Linked DNA regions of Homo sapiens: all the other regions are linked to region 2. The links come from fine-mapping of genetic effects on gene expression. A gene starts in region 2. Each other region holds a variant in brackets. All regions are shown on one strand. Distances are from middle to middle.

Evidence for each region. PIP is the estimated chance that this variant, and not a neighbour inherited with it, causes the effect. A credible set is the group of variants that fine-mapping cannot tell apart.
Region 1: its variant is the best candidate, but not a certain one, in a credible set for the expression of AACS in skeletal muscle (GTEx, PIP 0.58).
Region 3: its variant is the best candidate, but not a certain one, in a credible set for the expression of AACS in hypothalamus (GTEx, PIP 0.76).
Region 4: its variant is the best candidate, but not a certain one, in a credible set for the expression of AACS in whole blood (TOPMed, PIP 0.66).

Annotation. Positions count from the first base shown.
Region 1 is chr12:125,141,343-125,146,489 of GRCh38, reverse strand. It overlaps AACS (acetoacetyl-CoA synthetase), which reads right to left. Exons shown (of 18, transcript NM_023928.5): 18 at 3,174-4,398. The coding sequence ends at 4,261. Among named protein-coding and RNA genes, the nearest start is that of TMEM132B, 42 kb to the left of the region's middle. RefSeq lists an enhancer at 2,809-3,383. The variant A/G (reference allele first, on the strand shown) is at 3,004.
Region 2 is chr12:125,062,907-125,068,053 of GRCh38, reverse strand. AACS (acetoacetyl-CoA synthetase) reads right to left here and starts at 2,619. Exons shown (of 18, transcript NM_023928.5): 1 at 2,337-2,619. The coding sequence starts at 2,469. It overlaps LOC105370052 (a long non-coding RNA gene), which reads left to right. Exons shown (of 4, transcript XR_001749365.2): 3 at 2,944-3,051. RefSeq lists a silencer at 2,359-2,978.
Region 3 is chr12:125,133,376-125,138,522 of GRCh38, reverse strand. AACS (acetoacetyl-CoA synthetase) reads right to left here. Exons shown (of 18, transcript NM_023928.5): 15 at 4,451-4,520; 16 at 3,671-3,729; 17 at 1,659-1,861. Among named protein-coding and RNA genes, the nearest start is that of TMEM132B, 50 kb to the left of the region's middle. RefSeq lists an enhancer at 4,631-5,147. The variant G/A (reference allele first, on the strand shown) is at 3,186.
Region 4 is chr12:125,105,675-125,110,821 of GRCh38, reverse strand. AACS (acetoacetyl-CoA synthetase) reads right to left here. Exons shown (of 18, transcript NM_023928.5): 8 at 3,554-3,701. Among named protein-coding and RNA genes, the nearest start is that of AACS, 43 kb to the right of the region's middle. RefSeq lists an enhancer at 4,990-5,147. The variant C/T (reference allele first, on the strand shown) is at 2,050.

The DNA.
Region 1 (5,147 bases), 78 kb before region 2:
GTCGGGCACAGAAGCAGCCAGATTCCTTCATTCCTGTGGGAGGGGCTGCGACTGTCCCCCATCACCATTCCCCACCCTTCCTTGTCACAGAGCCATCTGCACCCACCACTAGAGTTCTGGGAGGGCACCTGTCACCCTGCTGGGCAGCACATCTCCCCGCCTCCTACACAGCTGAGTGCAGTCAGGTGACAAGGTTGTGGCCAAGGGGGTGAGGGTGAATGTTAGGTCACCTCCTCCATGACTGTGGTGAGCCAACATCTTCCAAGTGGACAAGACCTGCACACCAGGGGAGGCAGCAACCATTTGGAAGCCCAGGTCCTTGGGTGACCTTGCAAAACAAAGCTACCTACCCGCCCTGGCCTACCCATTCACCTCAGAGCGGTGACAGGAGAGAAGACACATTCCGGATTGAGCCAGATTTGGGGGCACCTGTTAGAGCAGCCCAGCTTGAACCCAGTGACAGATTATCCCCCATAAAGCTGCATGTGACATTCCCTCTGAAGGCTTGAGCCCATCACAGGATAGGTTGTGGCTGGGTCCTCAAAGGGAGTGTTGTTCCCCATGAGCCCTTCTCCTGGGCATTTGCAGACTCGAGGGAAGGGGCTCTTCTGTTCACCTACAGCCATGGTGACAGGGGTGGTACGACATCAGGAGGATGCCTTTTCTAAGGCGTGTGGGTTTCAGGCCTTCTGTTTGGGAAACAGATGAGTGAGCCAACCTGGGCCCTATCCTAGAGGGCTCAGATGCCCCTGTGGGGACAGGTCAGTGGCTGACTGCAGCTGGAGTTGATCGTTCAGCTCCAGTTGAGGAGAATCCTCCCGGGCGAGAAGGTGGGGCTGGGCAGCCCAAGCATGAGAAGGAGGCCTCCAGCCTGGAGAAGGTTCCTGGAGGTGGGCAGGAAGGGCCTGGAGGAGGACCAGCTGCTCAGAGGCCTGCTGGCCGTGGGAGATAGCAGAATCCTGGCAGCCCTAGCCAGGCTGTGTGGCAGATCCTGATGCCTTCAGAAGCTCCTGATGGGCCAGGCCTGGTGGGGAGCTGGAAGAAGACGAGAAGGCACGGTGCAGCCCACGGCCATCTCAGAGATGAAAAGGCAGCTGGCCGGCAGGTGGTGGGTTCTTTAGAGTGATGCTCGGGCCAAGGAACGTCAAAAGCAGGCTCAGCACCACGTGCACTCAACTGGCTGTTGTTCCAGACCATCTGTCCCTCATTAATGAAGTTGTCCGGCAGGGCTTATTAATAAGGATGCGTGGGCTTATTCAGCCTGGGCCGTCTTGCTGGAACTAAAGGGCACGCTGATTAAGCTGTAATGACTCCTCAGGCACTGTCAACATGAAGGGAATCTCCAGGCACCCAGTGAGAGGAGAGGACCTTGCAGGCCCCAGGCCCGACCTGAACCCTAAGGCCCACGGGCCACTCACAGGGGAGGACAATCCCAGCCCAAGTGTCATCAACCAGGGCTCCCTGCTGCTCCCAACAACCACCATCCACTTCTCCCTCGGCCAGCAGGACCCAGACTGTGTTTGCAAAGTGAGGTCAGCAGAGTAGCAGCCCCCCAAAGATATCCACATCCTAATCCTTGGAACCTGTGAATGCGTTAGGTTACATGGTGCTGTGGGTTGGATGTGGCTTGTCTATATGCCAAAACTCATGTTGACATTGACACCCAATGTAGCAGTGTTGGGAGGGGTCAGATCCCTCCTGAATACATTAATCCCCTCTGTAGGGGGTGAGTTCTCACCGTCACTTGTGCCTCGTGAGAACAGATTAGTTCCCAAGGGCGTGGTTGTTGAATGGTCTGGTTTCCTCTCTCACTGCGTGATCTCTGCATGCACCTGCTCCCCCTCCATGTTCTGCCCTGAGTGGAAGCAGCATGAGGCCCTCACCAGATGCAGCTGCCCAGTCTTGGACTTTTCAGCCACCAGAATCATGAACCAAATGAACCCCTTAATAAATTATTAACTTATAAATCACCCAGCTTCAGGTATTCTGTTACAGCAAAACAAAATGGACTACGACGTCGTGAGGAGGAGTGAGGGCTGCAGATGGAATTAAGGTTGTTAATCAGCACACATCAAAATAGGGAGATTATCCTTATTCAAGTGGGCCTGCTGCAATCACAGGGGGTTCTTACATGTGGACACGGTGGGTGGGAGTGTCAGCGTCAGAGAGCTACAGTGGAAGGAAGGTGTGACCGGCCATTGCTGAAGACAACAGGGCACCAGACAAGAAACACAGTGGCCTCTAGAAGCGGGAGAAGGCAAGGAAATGGATTCTCCCCTGCAGATTCCTGAAGGAACACAGCCCTGCTGTCACCCTGATTTCAGCCCAGTGAGACCCACAGCAGACTTCTGACCTCCAGGACTGTAATAAACTGGGGCTGTGTTAAGCCACTGCCTTTGTGGAAATGTTACAGCAGCTGTTGGAAACTCACAAAAAAGGGGAACAGGTCCTCTTTGAAATACTCAGACCCCCGGATGCCCTTGCAGCGAAGGCGGCTGCGTGTCCCCAGGCTGGCTGGTGAGGCCCAGCAGATGCTGCCGGCTTTCCAGAAAAGCCATCATTTTGCAGATAAAAAGGGACACACTCCAGAGATGCAGCTTTTTGCCTTTACCCAGCCCCCTTCTCACTCCCACCTTCTTCCTGCCTACAGCACGGATGAAAGACTAGAGGTGGGGCAGCCAGGCAGGGCCAAGATGATGACTGCCACATCCTGAGGACAGCAGAGTGCAGCAGACAGGAGCCAGGACTGCTGCACTGTGGAGTTGCTGCCCGGCCCCGGGAGAATGGACTGCCTCCAACTTCCTGTGACGTGAGAGCCATAAACGCTGCTGGGCCAAGCCTGGATCCCGTGGCATGTAGCCACACACAACCCAAGTGACATGCAGCTCTTGCGATGACAAGAAAGGAGCCAGAAACCTGGCTGGCGCTGGGTGTTGGGGGATCTCAGGGTGGAGGGGGCCCAGGGTGCTGGCTTCACACTGAGCAGCACTCCTCGTTGGTCAC[A/G]AGGGAATGTGGGTAAGTACCAGGGCCCTGGGAAGTGCCCCCAACAATTCGAACCACACAACTCCAGGGCACAGCTGTTGGCGGGCGCACAAGCACCACCAGCCTCACACACGCAGATGCGGTCCCCCCTCCAGAGAAAACACACCAGCACACTGCACACACAGCATGGGTGCATGTGCACACATGTATACATTTATTGCATAAAATTCATCATAGCACTTTCCCCCATATTTTTATAATCCAAAAGGAAAATGATTCAAGAAAGGATTTCATTGTGCTCAGTTTCAAAAAATATAAAAATGGACATCAGATTAGAGATACAAGTTCATACGCTGAACTGAATTGTACATACCAACTGCCTGGCTATGGAAACCCGTGACTTGACTTAGGGGTGCTGATGACATGATCTCGACAAGAACCCCCTAGCAACTCTCAGGTGGAGGCAGCACAGGGATGCGGTTCCTGGTGAGGAGGGTCCTCACTCGGTGACCACACTGCCTGGGCTCACAGCTGGAGGGCTCACCCATGAGGGACACGGGTGGACACCCACTGCTTCACATGCCTAATTCACATTAGAAACATGTAAAGCCATTCAGTCTGTGCAATAAAGAGATCCTGTATGAAATCCACTCATTCCTTGGAGGGAAGCTGGCCCGGAGGCACGCTCTGGTTGACGGGTGACGCACAGTCCTCCAGGGCCTGCATTGCATCCATGACACAGACACACGTGAACACCCAGCCCGCCGGTCCTAGCAGCCAGCTGTGAAAGCTGTGTCAAGTCACGGGGGTTCCTTTCTAACAGCTAAAGCTCAAAGGCATACTGGACCCTGAGGGAAAACAGGAGAGCCTGAGATGGGAAGGGAAGAAAGGGATTTGCACCTTCACAGAGCAAAATGGGACAACGGGACGGGGAGGTTGAAGACAAGACCTTGGCTCAGGAGTGTGTCTGTCTTCAGCACCAGCCAGCCCCACCGTTCCCGCTGCACTGTGTGTGCAAAGACACACACTCTCACCACAGTGCCACACCTGCGGCCCAGACACTCCCTCCTGGTCTCTGAAGGCCAGAATCCCACTCGTGTGGAAGATCCAGGTACCCACCAGATTTAACAAAACAGAGAAACGATCCCTCCCCAAGCCTACAGAACACTTGGTGCGAGCATCCTTTTACAACAGCTGTAGGTTTCTGTATAATTTCTTGAGCACACAAAAGTTACAGTGCACACGGGTGCGGCTGAGTGACACGCCAGCCAGTCTGACTCAGAAGCCCTGCAGCTCAGGGATGTCCCGGTACAGATCCAGGGTCTCGGGGTTCGAGAAAGCACCTCCTTGCTCCACGGCTTTTCCAGCGATGATCTGTTTGACGGCAACTTCCACTTTCTTGCCGTTGAGCGTATACTGCGAGGGAAAGGTAGAAAAACAGGAACATTTAAACCTGAAGGGGGGAAAATCCGCAGCCCTGGATATATCCAGGCCCCAAAGGCCCAGCTCCACCTGGAGTGCCAAGAGTGAATGGGTCTCGGCTCTAAGATGCCCCTCTTCCCACCAGGTCTGCAAACGTGCACCGAAGTACGGTGAACTGACCACTGTCTCTCTGTTTGGGGGATAAAACCTGTTCTTCTGAAAGGCACTTTCAAGGACTGGTGCTGAAACTCAACTCTAACACTCTCCACACCCCACCCCCGCCCCCTGGCACGGCTGTTGAGAAACTGAGGCTATTTCAAAGTTGCCCAGAGGTCACCATGAGCATGTTCATTTTTCTTTTTTTCTTTTTTTTTCTTTTTTTTTTTTTTGAGACAGAGTCGCACTCTGTCACCCAGGCTGGAGTGCAGTGGTGCAATCTCCGCTTACTGCAAGCTCCCCCTCCCAGGTTCACACCATTCTCCTACCTCAGCCTCCTGAGTAGCTGGGACCATAGGCACCTGCCACCACGCCCAGCTAATTTTTTGTATTTTTAGTAGAGATGGGGTTTCACCAGGATGGTCTCATGTTAGCCAGGATGGTCTTGATCTCCTGACCTCATGATCCACCCATCTTGGCCTCCCAAAGTGCTAGGATCACAGGCGTGAGCCACCGCGCCCAGCCGAGCATGTTCATTTTTCTAACGCTGCACACTCTACTGGGCCCCGTTGGGACCCACGACACGT
Region 2 (5,147 bases):
CCTCCCAGCACTTGCTCATGTTTACTCCACAACCCCAGGGACCCAGGGCAGAGCTGAGCACTGGGCTTGACCATCTCCTGTCACCTGCACACCCACTCAATGACTCAGGTCCTGTTATGCCCATTTTACAGATGAGGAAACAAGGCATGAAGAGATCCAATGACTTCCTCCTGATCACACAGCTGGTAAGTGGTAGAGCTAGTTCAAAACCCAGGTAGTCGGCCGAGCACGGTGGCTCACACCTGTAATCCCAGCACTTTGGGAGGCCGAGGCAGGTGGATCACCTGAGGTCAGGAGTTCTAGACCAGCCTGGCCTACATGGTGAAACCCCGTCTCTACTAAAAATACAAAAATTAGCCGGGCATAGTGGCAGGCACCTGTAATCCCAGCTACTCGGGAGGCTGAGGCAGGAGAACTGCGTGAACCCAGGAGGCAGAGGTTGCAATGAGCCGAGATTGCGCCGTCGCACTCCAGCCTGGGGGAGAAAAGCGAGGCTTAAAAAAAAAAAAAATCCAGATAGTCAGATTACAAATCCCTTCTCTTCAACACTTCCCACGGAGGAAGGTGGTTTCACCCATCTAATAGGGCTGCCCGATCTGAAATTATTTCATAACATCAGGGCTAGACAGGCACCAGACCAGCATTCTGTTATTGCTGGCAGAGGAAACAGATGGAATCAAGGCAAGGTGACACAGAGGAAGAACATAATCCCACATGGCAGCCTCCTGCTTCTTCCAGGAGTCTCCAGGCTGCCCTAATCCAACACATACTCATTTACCAACTGCTGTCCAGAAGCCCCTGGGGCAACAGACTACACCTGTCTCCAAGGGAGAGGAAGGGAAGGAGAGGAACAGCTCTGGGTTAGCCTAGGAAAATGACTCTGTGGAAGCTCCCCACTGCTGTGGAGGGCCTGGAAGCTGCCAGGCAGCCGTCTGCAATTTTGTGGTCAACAAGGAACCACTGAGAACTTCTGAGCCAAGGAGTGACAAAGTAAGACCTGTATGCTTCAAGATTACTCTGGCAAAGCAAGCAGGATGCAAATGGATGGAAAAGCAGGAAGCAGGAAAACCAACCACTGTTTGGTGAGGAGGAAAGGAGGCCCCAGAACCCCTGACAAGGGGCTGCAAAGGAGGAGATGTGAGCGACATGGGGCTGTGGCAGAAGACTTCTGGTGCCACAGGTGACTGGGGTGTCCATCCCTGTGAGCCTGAGCAAGAACAGTGACGCCACCAACAGAAACAAGGGAGTCCCTGCGCCAGCGGAGGGGGTGAGGAGGGGAGACCATGAGTTAAAAATCCCCTAGGAGGCCAGGCGCCGTGGCTCACACCTGTAATCCCAGCACTTTGGGAGGCCAAGGCGATCGGATCACCTGAGGTCAGGAGTTCGAGACCAGCCTGACCAACATGGAGAAACTCCGTCTCTACTAAAAATACAAAATTAGCCAGGCGTGGTGGTGTATGCCTGTAATCCCAGCTACTCGGGAGGCTGAGGCAGGAGAATCACTTGAACCCGGGAGGCGGAGGTTGCAGTGTGCCGAGATCTCGCCATTGCACTCCAGCCTGGGCAACGAGAGAGAAACTGTCTCAAAAAAAAAAAAAAAAAATCCCCTAGGAATACCTAGGGGAGGCAGGGTGGAGGGGTGGAGCTGGTAGTTGGGCAAGCCAGCTAGAGCTCAGGAAGAGCACCCGGAGCGGTTACCCCACGGAGAAGGAGCCTTTGCCCCACCCGCACCGAGAGAGGCAGTTTCTGAGGTTCAAGGTGATGGGTGGAAAGAGAGTCTTTTACTAGGTTCTGTTTGGGGGCTGGGAGTGTAGACACGTGGACAGGGCCTCCTGCCTGACCATCCTGCTAGGTGCTGGCCTCCAGCAGGGGCAGCTGGAGATGAGGGAGGTCAGGGGGACAGAGTGCACGGCACTGGGGACTGGCAAGGGACCCCCACAAACAGAGGAAGAGCTGCAAGTCAAAAAGGCCCTATGTCCGGGGGAAGCCCCCACAGGCCGGAGGTCAAGACTCCAGGGAGCACCTCACAGGTAGGAAAGCCTAGCAAGGGGTCACACGGTCAACAGGCAGCTGGCCCTCCCGAGGGGTGACACTCCCGGGGAGAGGGTGACCCCCACATGCAGAGGAGACGCTGCAGAGTCAGGAAGTGCCAGGAGGTGCTGTGGAGGGGTGATGTTCCCCAAGACTGGGGGGAACCCCGCAGTCAGAAGGCCTCCCCGCCATCAAGTGGCTCCTCCAGCCCCAGAAGCGTGAAACTAGCCATGGGGAGACCACCCAACCACCCTGCACGGCTCCCGCCCATCCCCCGCAGGCCCGGCCGCGCGCCCGACTCTCACCCAGCGCCAGGCCGCAGGCGGCGCCCACAGCCGCCCGGAAGCGGTCCATCTGCGTGTTCTTCTTACTGTCAGGCTCCCACATCACCTGGCACTCCAGGATCTCCTCCCGACCGGGGCGCTCCTCCTTGGACATGGCGGCGGCGGGCGGCCGGGGCTGCGACGAGGGCTGGGGACCAGGGGCCGGGGCTGAGGCGAGGGCCGGGGACCTGGGACCGGAGGAAGCGACGGTCAGGAGCGCCTGGCGGGCTGGGTCAGCGACGGCGGCGGCGGGGAACAAGGGACTGAACGGCCGCCGCCGCCTCCTGCGGGCCGCTTGGCCCAGGCCCCGCCCCGCAGGCCCCGCCTCGAATCCCCGCCCCCTTCCAGGCCCCGCCCTCCCGCCTGTAACCCTCCGCTGAGTGCAGCGCCGCTCAAAGGAGTGCTCGCAGCCGCCGGCTCCAGCGCCCGCGGCCGGGGGGCGTGGGGGTGAGGGGCGCTCACGAGCCTTGGCCCCAGCTCCCCGACCTCACCTGGAGCTGGAGGGCGTTAGGGCAGCCGGAGAAGCCAGGCGTCCGAGCCCGCTGTTTCCTACACGTGTACATCATTCATTCGCTATTTCTTCCTGCAGGTCTTTACTGAGAGCCTGCGGCATTCGGAGGACTTTGGGAGCTTTGCGGATACAGCAGCGAACAAAACAAAATTCTTGTTCTCTGTCAACAGGAGAGGAGGGGTACAGGTGTGAGGAAGACGGGAGACGATTAACAAATAAGTACATCGTGTACATACACAAGATAATGTCATAGTATAATACAATAATATACATAGTATGCCAATGGGTATCAAAATACACATTTGTGAAAGGAAAATAAATCTTGGGGCCCCACTACTAAGCTAAAGGGAAAAGAAAAGCTGGGAACTGCTTAGGGCTAACCTGCCTCCATTCTATTCAAAGTCACCCCTCTGCTGAGTTAAATGCACACCTGATTGCCTCCTTTGCAGAGGCTAATTGAAAACTCAAAAGAATGCAGCCATTTGTCCCTTATCTACCTATGACCTGGAAGGCCCCCTCCCCGCCTTAGCTTTTTTTTTTTTTTTGAGTCTCACTCAGTCGCCCAGGCTGGAGTGCAATGTCCCAATCTCAGCTCACTGTAACCTCTGCTTCCCAGGTTCAAGCGATTCTCCTGCCTCAGCCTCCTGAGTAGCTGGGATTACAGGCACACGCCATCATGCCCAGCTAATTTTTCGTGTTTTTTTTTTTGTTGTTGTTGTTGTTTGTTTTGTTTTTTTGAGACGAAGTTTCGCTCTTGTTACCCAGGCTGGAGTGCAATTGCGAGATCTCGGCACACGGCAACCTCCATCTCCCAGGTTAAAGCAATTCTCCTGCCTCAGCCTCTCGAGTACCTGGGATTACAGGCATGTGCCACCACGCCTGGCTAATTTTGTATTTTTAGTACAGACAGGGTTTTTCCATGTTGGTCAGGCTGGTCTCCAACTCCCGGCCTCAGGTGATCCGCCCGCCTCAGCCTCCCAAAGTGCTGGAATTACAGGCGTGAGCTACCGAGCCCGGCTCATTTTTGCATTTTTGTAGAGACGGGATTTCACCATGTTGGCCAGGCTGGTCTTGAAGTCCTGACCTCAGGTGATCCACCCGCCTCGGCCTCCCAAAGTGCTGGGATTACAAGAGTGAGCCCAGGTCTGAGAGCACCCCCTCCAGAGCCTCCCTGATCTCCCAAAATTTGGTGGAGATCTAAAGTTTATTTTGCTGTACAACTCTTTTCTTTGCAGTTTTACTTGCTTCCAACAAGGAAGGCAAGGTTTCCTGCTTCCATGACAATGGAAGGCAGGTAACTCCTTTATGGAGTTTGAGCTCGCTTCCAACAGGGAAGATGAGGTCTTTTTTCCTGCTTCTAGAATGGTAGAGAGCAGTCTACAGCCTAAGACCCATCCCTAGGTAAGTAACTGAATTGGGGTTTGTCTTGGCTAAAGTTAAGGTTAACAGCCAGCTGGTCTTAATGTCAGAGGCATTTGAACCAGAGCAACTCCATCTTGAGTGGGGGCTGGGTAAAATGAGGCTGAGATCTACTAGGCTCCATTCCCAGACAGTGAAGGCATTCTAAGTCACAGGATGAGACAGGAGGTCGGCACAAAATACAAGTCATAAACACCTTGCTGATAAAACACGCTGCAGTAAAAAAGCCGGCTAAATCCTACCAAAACCAAGGTGGTGATGAGAGTGACCTCTGCTTGACTTCACTACTACACTCCCATCAGCACCATGACAGTTTACAAATGCCATGGCAATGTCAGGAAGTTACTCTATATGGTCTAAAAAGGGGAGGCATGAATAGTCCACCCCTTGTTTAGCATATCATCAAGAAATAACCATGAGAATGGGCAACCAGCACCCCTCAGGGTGCTCTGTCTATGGAGTAGCCATCTTTTTATTCCTCTACTTTCCTAAGGAACTTGCATTTGCTTTAGTCTGTAGACTCGCCTTGAATTCTTTATTGCGTGAGATCCAAAAACCCTCTCTTGGGGTCTGGATCGGGACCGCTTTCCTCTAACATTAATTTATCCTTACCATTAGAGCGTGCTCAGTGATCATATAAGTTGTGCCATTTTTTGTTTGGCTTAAATGCTTTTTTGGTTGCTTGTTTGTCTCTGTTTTTGTTGTTGCTTTGGTCTTTTCCCATTGGGTTTGATCAACTATATCTGACTTGATCAAATCAAAAGGAAAGTTCCAAATTGCTGGGAACAAGGACTGTAAAGTGGCTAAATTCACACACACACACACACACACACACACACACACACACACACACGTGGCCTGGT
Region 3 (5,147 bases), 70 kb before region 2:
CCAAGGGGATAAATGCAAATTCCAGTTCCCTAAAATGTTCCAGATAAGACAGCACTGATTCACTGAAGGAAAACCTTAGACCCTCATCAGAAAAAGACAATAAGGGTCACTGATTCAAGAAGTACCTTCTTGGAGAGCATCAGTGTCCCCACAGAGAGCCGCCAAGAGTCACCAACCAAAAATAAGGGAAAAAGAAAGAGATGGATGGAAAGCCCCAAGCTGCAGGGCTCTTCCCATGCAGAACCAGAACACAAAGGAAACGTGTGGACACCACAAAAAGCAACCAACACCGCAGATGCGGGCAGGCGCCGGGAGGAGGAGGGACAGGGGTCCCGAGTGGGAGTCAGCGCAGATGTGGACAGGCGCCGGGAGGAGGAGGAACAGGGTCCCGAGTAGGAGTCAGTCTTCCAGGGATGATCAGGGATTGCACACCGTTGTCGTGCTGCAAGCGCTCTCCCCAGCCCCCACTCCTGGACAGGTTGTTTTGAAGATGTTGAAATAACTTTTAAGGCAAAGAGAATGATCTACGGGTTTCAAAGTAAACGGCATCAGATATTTCAACATTCTCCAGGAAGCAGACTCTCCTGGTAAATCCTGTCTCTAGTTACACCTCACAGAATCAGCCCTGCTCCCGGGCAACATCAAAGTCAGCTTCCCCTGGGAACCCAGTGAGTGTGTGCTCCCATCTTCTCCTTAACGAATAGCCATTCCATAGGCTTCAAATACAGCCTGCCACTGTCTAAATTGTTGTATACATTCACATACACACACACACTCACACACACACAGCAGCTTCTGTCAGCTTGCGGGGTATCCGTTTTGTAAGCAATGCAAATGAAAGCTGTGATCCAATTTGGGTGACCCTCCTCCTCCCCCACTTAGAATCAAAGCAGAGCGTACTGGGGCCAGGGGCTGGGGGATGACGACACAGCCTTAGGAAGACCTGCCTCTAAAAAGAGTCAAGTCTTGTCTGTACCAGCAGAACTTAAAACTAAAAGGCAACAGCAACGGCTCCCAGCAGCACTTTAAAAAGTTAAAATTGGCTGGGTAGAGTGGCTTACGCCTGTAATCCCAGCACTTTGGGAGGCTGAGGTGGGCGGATCACTTGAGGTCAGGAGTTTGAAACCAGCCTGGCCAACATGGCAAAACCCCATCTTTACTAAGAATACAAAAATTAGCCAGGCATGCTGGCATGTGACTGTAATCCCAGCTACCAGTTAACTCAGGAGGCTGAGGCAGGAGAACTGCTTGAACCTGGGAAGCGGAGGTTGCAGTGAGCTGAGATTGAGCCATTGCATTCCAGCCTGGGTGACAGACTCAGTCTCAAAAAAATAAAATAAAAAATAAAAAGTTAAAATTAATGTTCTCATTAAAAATTTTGAGAATACACTAAAACCAGGGGATAGCAGGGAGAAGCCAGTTGGACCTGCAGGGCTGGGCCTGCTAACCCTCTGAACATGGGTATTTAGCAGAAGTTGCTTTAAATGCAGTCTTAGGAAGGGTAGGAAAAAGGATGGCAGGGAGAGGATGGCGTTGCTAGGCAACGTGGACAAACGATATATAAAGCACCGGCAAGCTGCTCAGATGTAAGCGCCCCTCAATGTGTGGGCTCGTGGGGCGATGGCTGCGGTCTCCTCGCTGGCGGGAGATGGCCATACCGGGATGCCCTTGGTTTCCAGGATGAGGCTGGGCACGTGTCGCGCAGACAAGCCCATGCGGATGGCGTCACGGATCCTCTTAACCAAGTCAGGCTGGAAGGCGTGCCCGGAGGCCATCTTCAGGAAGAGGATCACCCTCTCCTCCCTGTACTTGTTATACTGGGGGACACACAGGCTGTCCTCCACCTCCTCGAAGGATTCCACTGTGGAGACAGGAGAGGGTGCACATTCACGCAGGGGGCCCCTCAGTGTGGGGTCGGGCCTCACAGCAACCTGGCAGAGCAGGAGGGGCAGGCTGGGTCCCCCAAGCCTTCCAGCGGTGCCTGTGTTCTCCCAGTCCACCCAGGAGAAGGGCCTTGGAGGGACATTTGCTGAGGAGGCCGTTTCACAAGCGGAAGAAAACCCATCACTGGGGAGGCAGAGAGAGCTTCAGGTTTGGCAGGATGGGTGATGTTCTACCAGGAAGCCAGGTGTGGGCCTTACTTAATGAGAAATTAATTCAAGATAAAAAAGAGGGCCGGGCATGGTGGCTCACGCCTATAATCCCAGCACTCTGGGAGGCTGAGGTGAGAGGATCACTTAAGTCCAGGAGATTGAGACCAGCCTGGACAACATAGGGAGACTTTGTCTCTACGAAAAATCAAAACCTAAGTTAGGCATGGTGACACACACCTGGAGACACAGCTACTCGGGAAGCTGAGGCAGGAGGATCGCCTGAGCCCAGGAGGTCGAGGCTACAGTGAGTTATGATGGCGCCACTGCCCCCCAGCCTGGCCAACAGAGTGAGACCCTGTCGGCCTCCCAAAAAAGGAGGCAGGTGGCCGGGCACAGTGGCTCACACCTGTAATTCCAGCACTTTGGGAGGCCGAAGTGGGTTGATTACTTGAGCTCAGGAGTTTGAGACCAGCCTGGCCAACATGGCAAAACCTCATCTCTACAAAAAATACAAAAATTAGCTGGGCATGGTGGTGCACGCCTGTAGACCCAGCTACTCAGGAGGCTGAGGTGAGAGGATTGCTTGAGCCCAGGAGGCGGAGGTTGCAGTGAGCTGAGATCACACTATTGCACTCCAGCCTGTGAAGAGAGTAAGACCCTGTCTCAAAAAAAAATTTTTTTAAAAAAGAAAGCAGGTGCCTGTGGTGGGGACTCCACTGGAGTGAGGAAAAAAGGCTGGAATCAGACATCGGGATTTCTCTACCCTGGCCACACAAACGACCTTGACATAAGTTTAGGACTCTGACCTAAGCACTAGCATAAGAGGCCATCTGACCAACTCTGCGGCCTGGGCTGGGTCTGGGTCCCTGGGCTGGGAAGTTTGAAGGCCCACAGGTGACTCCACTGTACAGTTGTGAGATCCACAGGCCTACACTCTCTGTGCTTGGTGTCCTGCATGATGCTGTGTGACCTTCAGCAATCCTGAACCCTCTCTGTGCTTCTGGTTTCTTCAACCATAAAGAGTAGACACAAGTTGGCCGGGCGTGGTGGCTCATGCCTGTAATCCCAGCACTTTGGGAGGCCGAGGCAGGC[G/A]GATCACTTGAGGTCAGGAGTTCGAGACCAGCCTGGCCAACACGGTGAAACCCCATCTCTACTAAAAATACAAAAACTAGCTGGGCATGGTGGTGCATGTCTATCATCCCAGCTACTGAGGAGGCAGAGGTTGCAGTGAGCCAAGATCGCGCTCCAGCCTGGGTGACACAGCGAGACTCTGTCTCCAAAAAAAAAAAAAAGAGTAGATAGACACAAGTAACCAGCCCAGCAGAGCTCACCGGGAGGATGAGCTATAATGAGGAAGAGGATGGGCAAAGGGACCTTAAAGACCCCATTTGAGGTTTTATGAGGATGGCAGTGTGGGCAAGGTATGTTCTGGAAAGGAGGTCAGGCTCACAAATGTCCACTGTCACACCAGAGAACAAGGGGCCAGAGTTGTGCCAAAGGTGGGGCTCCTGGGGCTCCCGCCAGGACCCTCCTCCTTCCTGGAGACTGGAGAACGCTCAGGGAGGGGAAGCACGTACCAATGTTATAGATTTCCGAGCTGCCGAACCGCACCCCGTTGGGGTTGAGGGTGCCGTCACTGGAAAGAGAGAAGAGGTCAGGGCCACACCGCAGCTCTGGAGTGAAGCAAGTCCCAGGGGTCCCACGGGAGGGCAGTCACCCCCCACTTTCCCATGGCATCCCCCAGGACTAGTCACGGACACTCCGCTCCCCAGCTCCTTGCCCTACCACCCGGCTCTTTCTCCCTCTCAGGTTAAAGCTTTCCATCGAGGGAGGCAGGAACATCTGTCACCTCACTGCCTTCCCACCTGCACACGTGTCCCCCATTGCAGGTGTGGACACTGCTGTGCCTTTGCTGTGGAACCCCCATCCTGACACTCCCTACCCGAGAACCCCATCACAGGGCAGGGAGACTTGGATCACGCCCAGACCCATCCCTCGGGAAGGAAGCTGGCACAGGGATGCGCCACCCCAGGAATGACACAGGAAGGGTCCAAGATGAGGGACAGTCAGCCATGTTGCAGACTGAGCAGACAATGCTTCCTCAGAGGGGGTCTTCAGGCCCAGGGATGGTGTGTGCACAGGCACAGGGGTGGGGAAACATGGCGCACCAGCCGGTGGGGGCTGGGGGGTCCCAGACACCAGCAGAGGTGTGGGTGGTGTGGACACCCTGGTGCTGGAGTGGAGTGAGGTGCCCAGGAAGGGGGTCACTGACTTTTATAGAAAGCACCTCCTCTCCCACCCCCATGCCTCTGGAAGGTGGGGCTCCAGGAAAGAGAAGCCGACTCTGCAGCCCTTACCTCCGGCCAAGCATGACGATGCCCCCGGTCTTGGGGTTGATTCTGCAGTAGTCGCCATGAGCCCAGATACCTGCAAAGACAGCAGAGGTGCCCGGTCATCCCGAGGAGAAGGGGCCATGACAGGCTGCCTGGACAGACGCTGGGTGTAGGTCCGCAGACATCACTGGGGCCCAGAGGCAGGTCTGGCATGGGGCTGGGGGCCAGAGGGAGCCAGACAGTTCCTGCCCCAAGGAACATGCCCTCTAGCGGGGCTGCTGCCCGGGCAGCTCTGACACCGCCGGCGAGGAGGAACGCAGCTCCTCAGGCACCAGCAAGGACCCGGGAATTCACAGAGGGCAGGACCAAGCTCGGCCAGGCCACTGGGGGTCAACAGGAGTGTCTGGAGACAACCCTGAGTGTAGCACAGGAAAGAATAAGCCATGTCTTGGGAAGCAAGAGTGGCCAGGGGCAGTGGAGGGCACAGGGTGTGCAGAGGTTGGGGCCAGATCTTGGAATGGAATACACGTGCTCGTGACCAGGAAGGAGGCTACTGCACCAGTCCGAGTCATGTAGGCTTGAACCAAAACATTAGCCACATGGACAGAGAGCCGATTAGCAGGTAAAACCCAGGGGATGAGGAGACGGGGAAGAGGAAAGAGCCAGGGATGACAGCAACACAGTGTCAGCAGGCCACGTGAGTGGCCTCATGTGCAGCTGT
Region 4 (5,147 bases), 43 kb before region 2:
GATTCAAACTGCTTCTAGGTAGAGGGAACGTCTATAAAAGCTAAGTGAGCTAGAATAAGGGAACTTGTATATTTCCTTTTCAAATGCCACTGTCTTATCAAGCAAAGGTTTCTCCACTTGGAGAATTCTCTTCTTCTGAGTTTGGGGGAAAAAGTGGTGATCAGAAGGTTTGACCAAGATACAGTGGATTTTTCTCCTCCCTATAGGCTGAGCCAACTGATAGGGAAATGGGGAAATGAGCTATGGGGAGAGCTGAAGAGCTGGCCCAGAGGAGAGCCTAGAGCAGCGTGAGGGTGGGAGCCACGGCGTCGCAAGCATCCTGACTCCCACAGACCGGCCCAGGAGAAGTCTGAGTGCAAGGTAAGGATTCAACCGAGTCAGGAAGCCCAGGGGCAGAAGAGGATCAGAGGAAGTAAGATGTGATAGCAGTTATTAGAAAAGCACTACATTCAGCTGGGCGTGACGGCTCAGGCCTGTAATCCCAGCACTTTGGGAGGCCAAGGAAGGTGGATCACGAGGTCAGGAGTTGGAGACCAGCCTGGCCAACATAGTGAAACCCCGTCTCTACTAAACACACACACACACACACACACACACACACACACACACACACACACACACACACACACACAAACTTAGCCGGCCGTGGTCGCGGGCGCCTATAATCCCAGCTACTCAGGAGGCTGAGGCACAAGAATCGCTTGAACCCGGGAGGCAGAGGTTGCAGTGAGCCAACATTGAGCCACTGCACTCCAGCCCAGGTGACAGTGCCGGGACTCCACCTCAAAAAAAAAAAAGCAAAGCACCACATTGACCCAGGCATTTCATTTCTGAAGAGTGGCCTAGTGAAATCACAGAAATGAAATACACTAACGTTGTATCCCCCCGATAGATGCACGGAGAAGAACACCACATCATTTCCAGCGTGTTCCCACCAAAGCTGCATCACCTGGACCTAACCACGAGGAGACACCAGACATACCCAAACAGAGCCATTCTGCCAAACCAGGAGCCTGGGCTCTTTGAAAATGTCAGTGTCACGGAAGACGAAGAAGCCCAAGGAGCTGCTCCAGACATGCAGGAGACCTGACGACTGACGTGCCACCGCCTGAGCTGCTAGGACGCTACTGGGGAACTGGCGACCTGACTGTGGACCATAGATGAGGGGGCGGCACTGCACCAACGCCAACCTTCCTGAATTTGATGAGCGCGCTACACACTCTTCTGTAAGAGAACGCTCCTGTTCTTGGGAGATACGTGCTGAAATATTAAAGAGTGAAAGATCATTGTGGCTCCAACGTACTCTCAACTGGTTCAACAAAAAGCAAAATAACAACATGTGTATATACGCTGAGAGAGAAAGAAGGCGAAAGAGGCTTTTAGGACGTGTTAAAAATGGATGTTGACATCAGGCACAGTGGCTCATGCCTGTAATTCCAGCACTCAGGAGGCCAAGGCGAGAGGATCACTTGAGCCCAAGAGTTCATGACCAGCCTGGGGAACATAGCAAGACCCCATCTCTACAAAAACAAAAAAGTAGCACGTGCCTGTAGTCCAAGGTACTTGGAAGACTGAGGTGGGAGGATCGCTTGGGCCCAGGAGGTAGAGGTTGCAGTGAGCCATGATCACGCCACTGCACTCCAGCCTGGACAACAAAGTGAGAAACTATCTCAAAACAAAACAAAACAAAAGGACGTTGAAAATGTTAAAGACAGAATGTCAACAATGGAAGAATTCAGCTGAAGGGTACCATGGAGCTTACTATTCTTGCAGCTTTTCTAGAGGTTCTCTAGGTATTTTATTTTTTTCAAAAATAAAAGGTTTGGTTGAGCATGGGTGGCTCACATCTGTAATCCCAGCACTTTGGGAGGCCAAGGCAGGTGGAATATATGAGCCTAGGGGTTTGAGTCCAGCTTGGGTAACATGCCAAAACCCGGTCTTAAAAAAAAAAAAAAAAAGCCACAAAAATACAAAACAAACAAAAAAACGAGTAGGGCATAGCGGCACACGCCTATAATCCCAGCTACATGGGAGACTGAGAGGGGAGGA[C/T]TGCTTAAGCCCAGGAGGCAGAGGTTGCAGTGAGCCAAGATTACACCACTGCACTCCAGTCTGGGCGACAGATCAAGACTCCATCTCAAAAAAAAATAAAATAAAATAAAATAACAGGTTAAAAGTCACTAACCTATACATATACATTCTATTGCATAGTAGTAACATATTATTTCAGGTGCTTTAATAAAGTTAGACTTTCGGTGAAATAAGAAAAATTAAAAGCATGTGTCATGGGCTGAACTGTGTACCCCCAAAATTCGTATGTTGAAGCCCAATACCTAGTATCTCAGAATGTGACTAAATGGGCCTTTAAAAGGTGACAGAGTTTAAATGAGGCTGTCAGAGCAGGCCCAGATCCGATCTGACTGGGGTCCTCAGGAGAAGAAGCTTGGACCCATACAGAGACACCAGCGGTGTCACGTGAAAGATCACACGAGGACAGAGCAAGAAGGCGGCCGTCCACAAGCCAAGGAGAGAGGCCTCAGACAAGAGCAACTGTGCGGCACCTTGGTGTTCCACACAGCCTGTGGTGTTTCGTTATGGCAGCCCTAACAGACTCGCAGCACGGGCAGGCTCTTTCTCAGTTAATTAGACTCTAATAATAACCTAATAACCTAGTAACCTAGCCTTCTAATAACCTAACCAGTGGCTTTCAAATATTTTACCACAACCCACGGTCAGACATAAGTTTTACAACGCCCCCAGCACGTGCACACATTCCGCTCCATGTAATGACAGCTTCACAGAACACCACCCATACCTCTTATGAGCCTATTCTGTGCTAATATTTTATTTTATTTTTATTTTTTGAGACAGAGTCTGGCTCTGTTGCCAGGTGGAGTGCAGTGGCATGATCTCAGCTCACTGCAACCTCCGCCCCCTGGGTTCAGGCAATTGTCCCACTTCAGCCTCCCGAGTAGCTCAGACTACAGGCATGTGCCACCACGTCCAGTTAATTTTTGTATTTTTTAGTAAAAATGGGGTTTTGCTATATTGGCCAGGCTGGTCTCAAACTCCTGGGCTCAAAGCAATCTGCCCACCTCAGGTTCCCAAAGTGCTGGGGTTATAGGTGTGGGCCATTGCGTCTGGCACTGCGCTAATATTATCTATTCTTGTCTATTCTGATTCGTTCTTTTTAAAATACTGGCAGGGCCCACCTATTGAGTTCACAATCCCCCAGGTGGTCCAGACCTGCAGGGTGAAAGTAGCTGGTTCAGCCAGCGCACCCCCCACCCCCAAGGCACACCGCGCTGTACAGTGACCTCCAAGCCTATCGCCATGGTGTTAGGTGCCATCCCAGCCTTTGAAGTGGCAGCACTCCACTGCCCTGGGCCCAGTGCCGGATCTCCGTGCAGCACCCCACTTGGAGAGAAGCTGCACGTTGGACTCTCCGGGGATGGGGTGCAGTTTGACAACTCCAACACTGCCATCATCAGCTGGGAGGCCCTGTTGAAGCAAACAGACAACAGGAGGCCCTGCAGAGCCTTCCCCAGAGACCTACCCCAGCGGAATGCACCATGCACTTGGGTGCGCCCGTGGTGCCCGATGAGAACATGATGAACAGTGGGTGGCTGAAGGGCAGCTGCTCGAACTCCAGCTGCGGGGCCTGCTCACTGGTGCCGGTGGCAAGAAAGTCATCCAGAAACACACTGTGGGCCGAAACGCAGGGAAACACGCCATGAACGTCCCAGAATGCTGGACCGGACCCACTGATTCCACCCGTGCACTTCCCTCTGTTTCTACCCCCAGAAAAGCCAGGATTCCAGGGGGACGGTGGCCAGATTTGGAAACTTCCTGGGACCAGGGGAGGCAGTTAGATCTCAGAGATTCAAGCTAATTGAAGGAAAACTCATCGAACGAGTGAAGGTTTCAAGTTGCTTAATCAGCACTGCTGACAGGGCCAAGGGCTGTCTTTTAGAGAATATTTTAAGTGTTTTCATAACCACCACGGAGAAGGATCACTTACAATGAACAAGCCATGTGTGTACCAACACGGCTGAAGGAGGCTTTGGAAATGGCCTTGAAGTCTTCTGAGCCCATGTCCTTTGTTTGCTATTGATCACCTGATTAGCAAACGCTTTGTTTCCAATGATTGCCCAAAAGGAAGCACTCACCAAGTGGGTCTGAAGTAAGATGCTTCCCCCGTGGGGAGAAGGGAGAGGAGGAGATGCTAGATTAATGAGCCCTTCCTACAGATGTGGGGTCAATTTCCTAAACTACAGCTCAATGACAGAGAACCGCTCAGCAAATATCATGTGTTGTCACTAACTTACTAGATCCTGAGGTTTACAATAGCAAGATACAAATATCTGTGCAAGAACAAATAAAATTAATCCCAGCTATTGACTGTCACCCAGGAAGTGTGCCTAGGCTTACCCCCAAAGCTGACAGGCAGCATTGTTGTAGGTGGCCAAGAACCACCAAAGGGGCGACACAAACAGGAGATTTGTTTTCTGCACTAGAAACAGCCGCAGAAGCCACAAGCCATCTTGGGAAAAGGTGGTTTTCTATTTTGAATTCAGCAGCAACATCCATCTCAAAACATTGGCCCTATACTCAACTGACAAATGGACTTTCTCTCAGGGAAGGAGGTGGGAATCAGTTAAACGCAGCCTGCAGCCATTTGCTAGGGATAATTACTCTGAAATACAAATGCCATACAGACTAAAATGAAGAATTTTGCTGTCTTGCATGAGAAGGCATCCTTAAATATAAAGGTTTCTCCTGGGGAAGACATGGTGGTTTAAAAAGGGCATCCAAAATAATTCAACTCTAAGCAAGAAACAAACAAAGCCGTCTGCTCCAGCATGTCAGGAAAACTATTCACTGTGGAACTTTACAGCCAATGAAAACCCCATCCCACCTCTACCTCCTATAAGAATCCCATTATAAAGTGCCAGATCTAATCAGATACTTCACACAGAGAAAAGCCTTTTCTGTCAAATGGCCCATAAATCACAGTACATAATGATTACCTTTGTTAAAGCTCTTCTAAGAATGAAAAGCCCACAGGGTGGCTCCCCCGGCCCCGTCAATTCTCCACAGATGGGCACGTACCCGTTTCTGCTTTATCTGTGGCATCCACAATCAAAGGA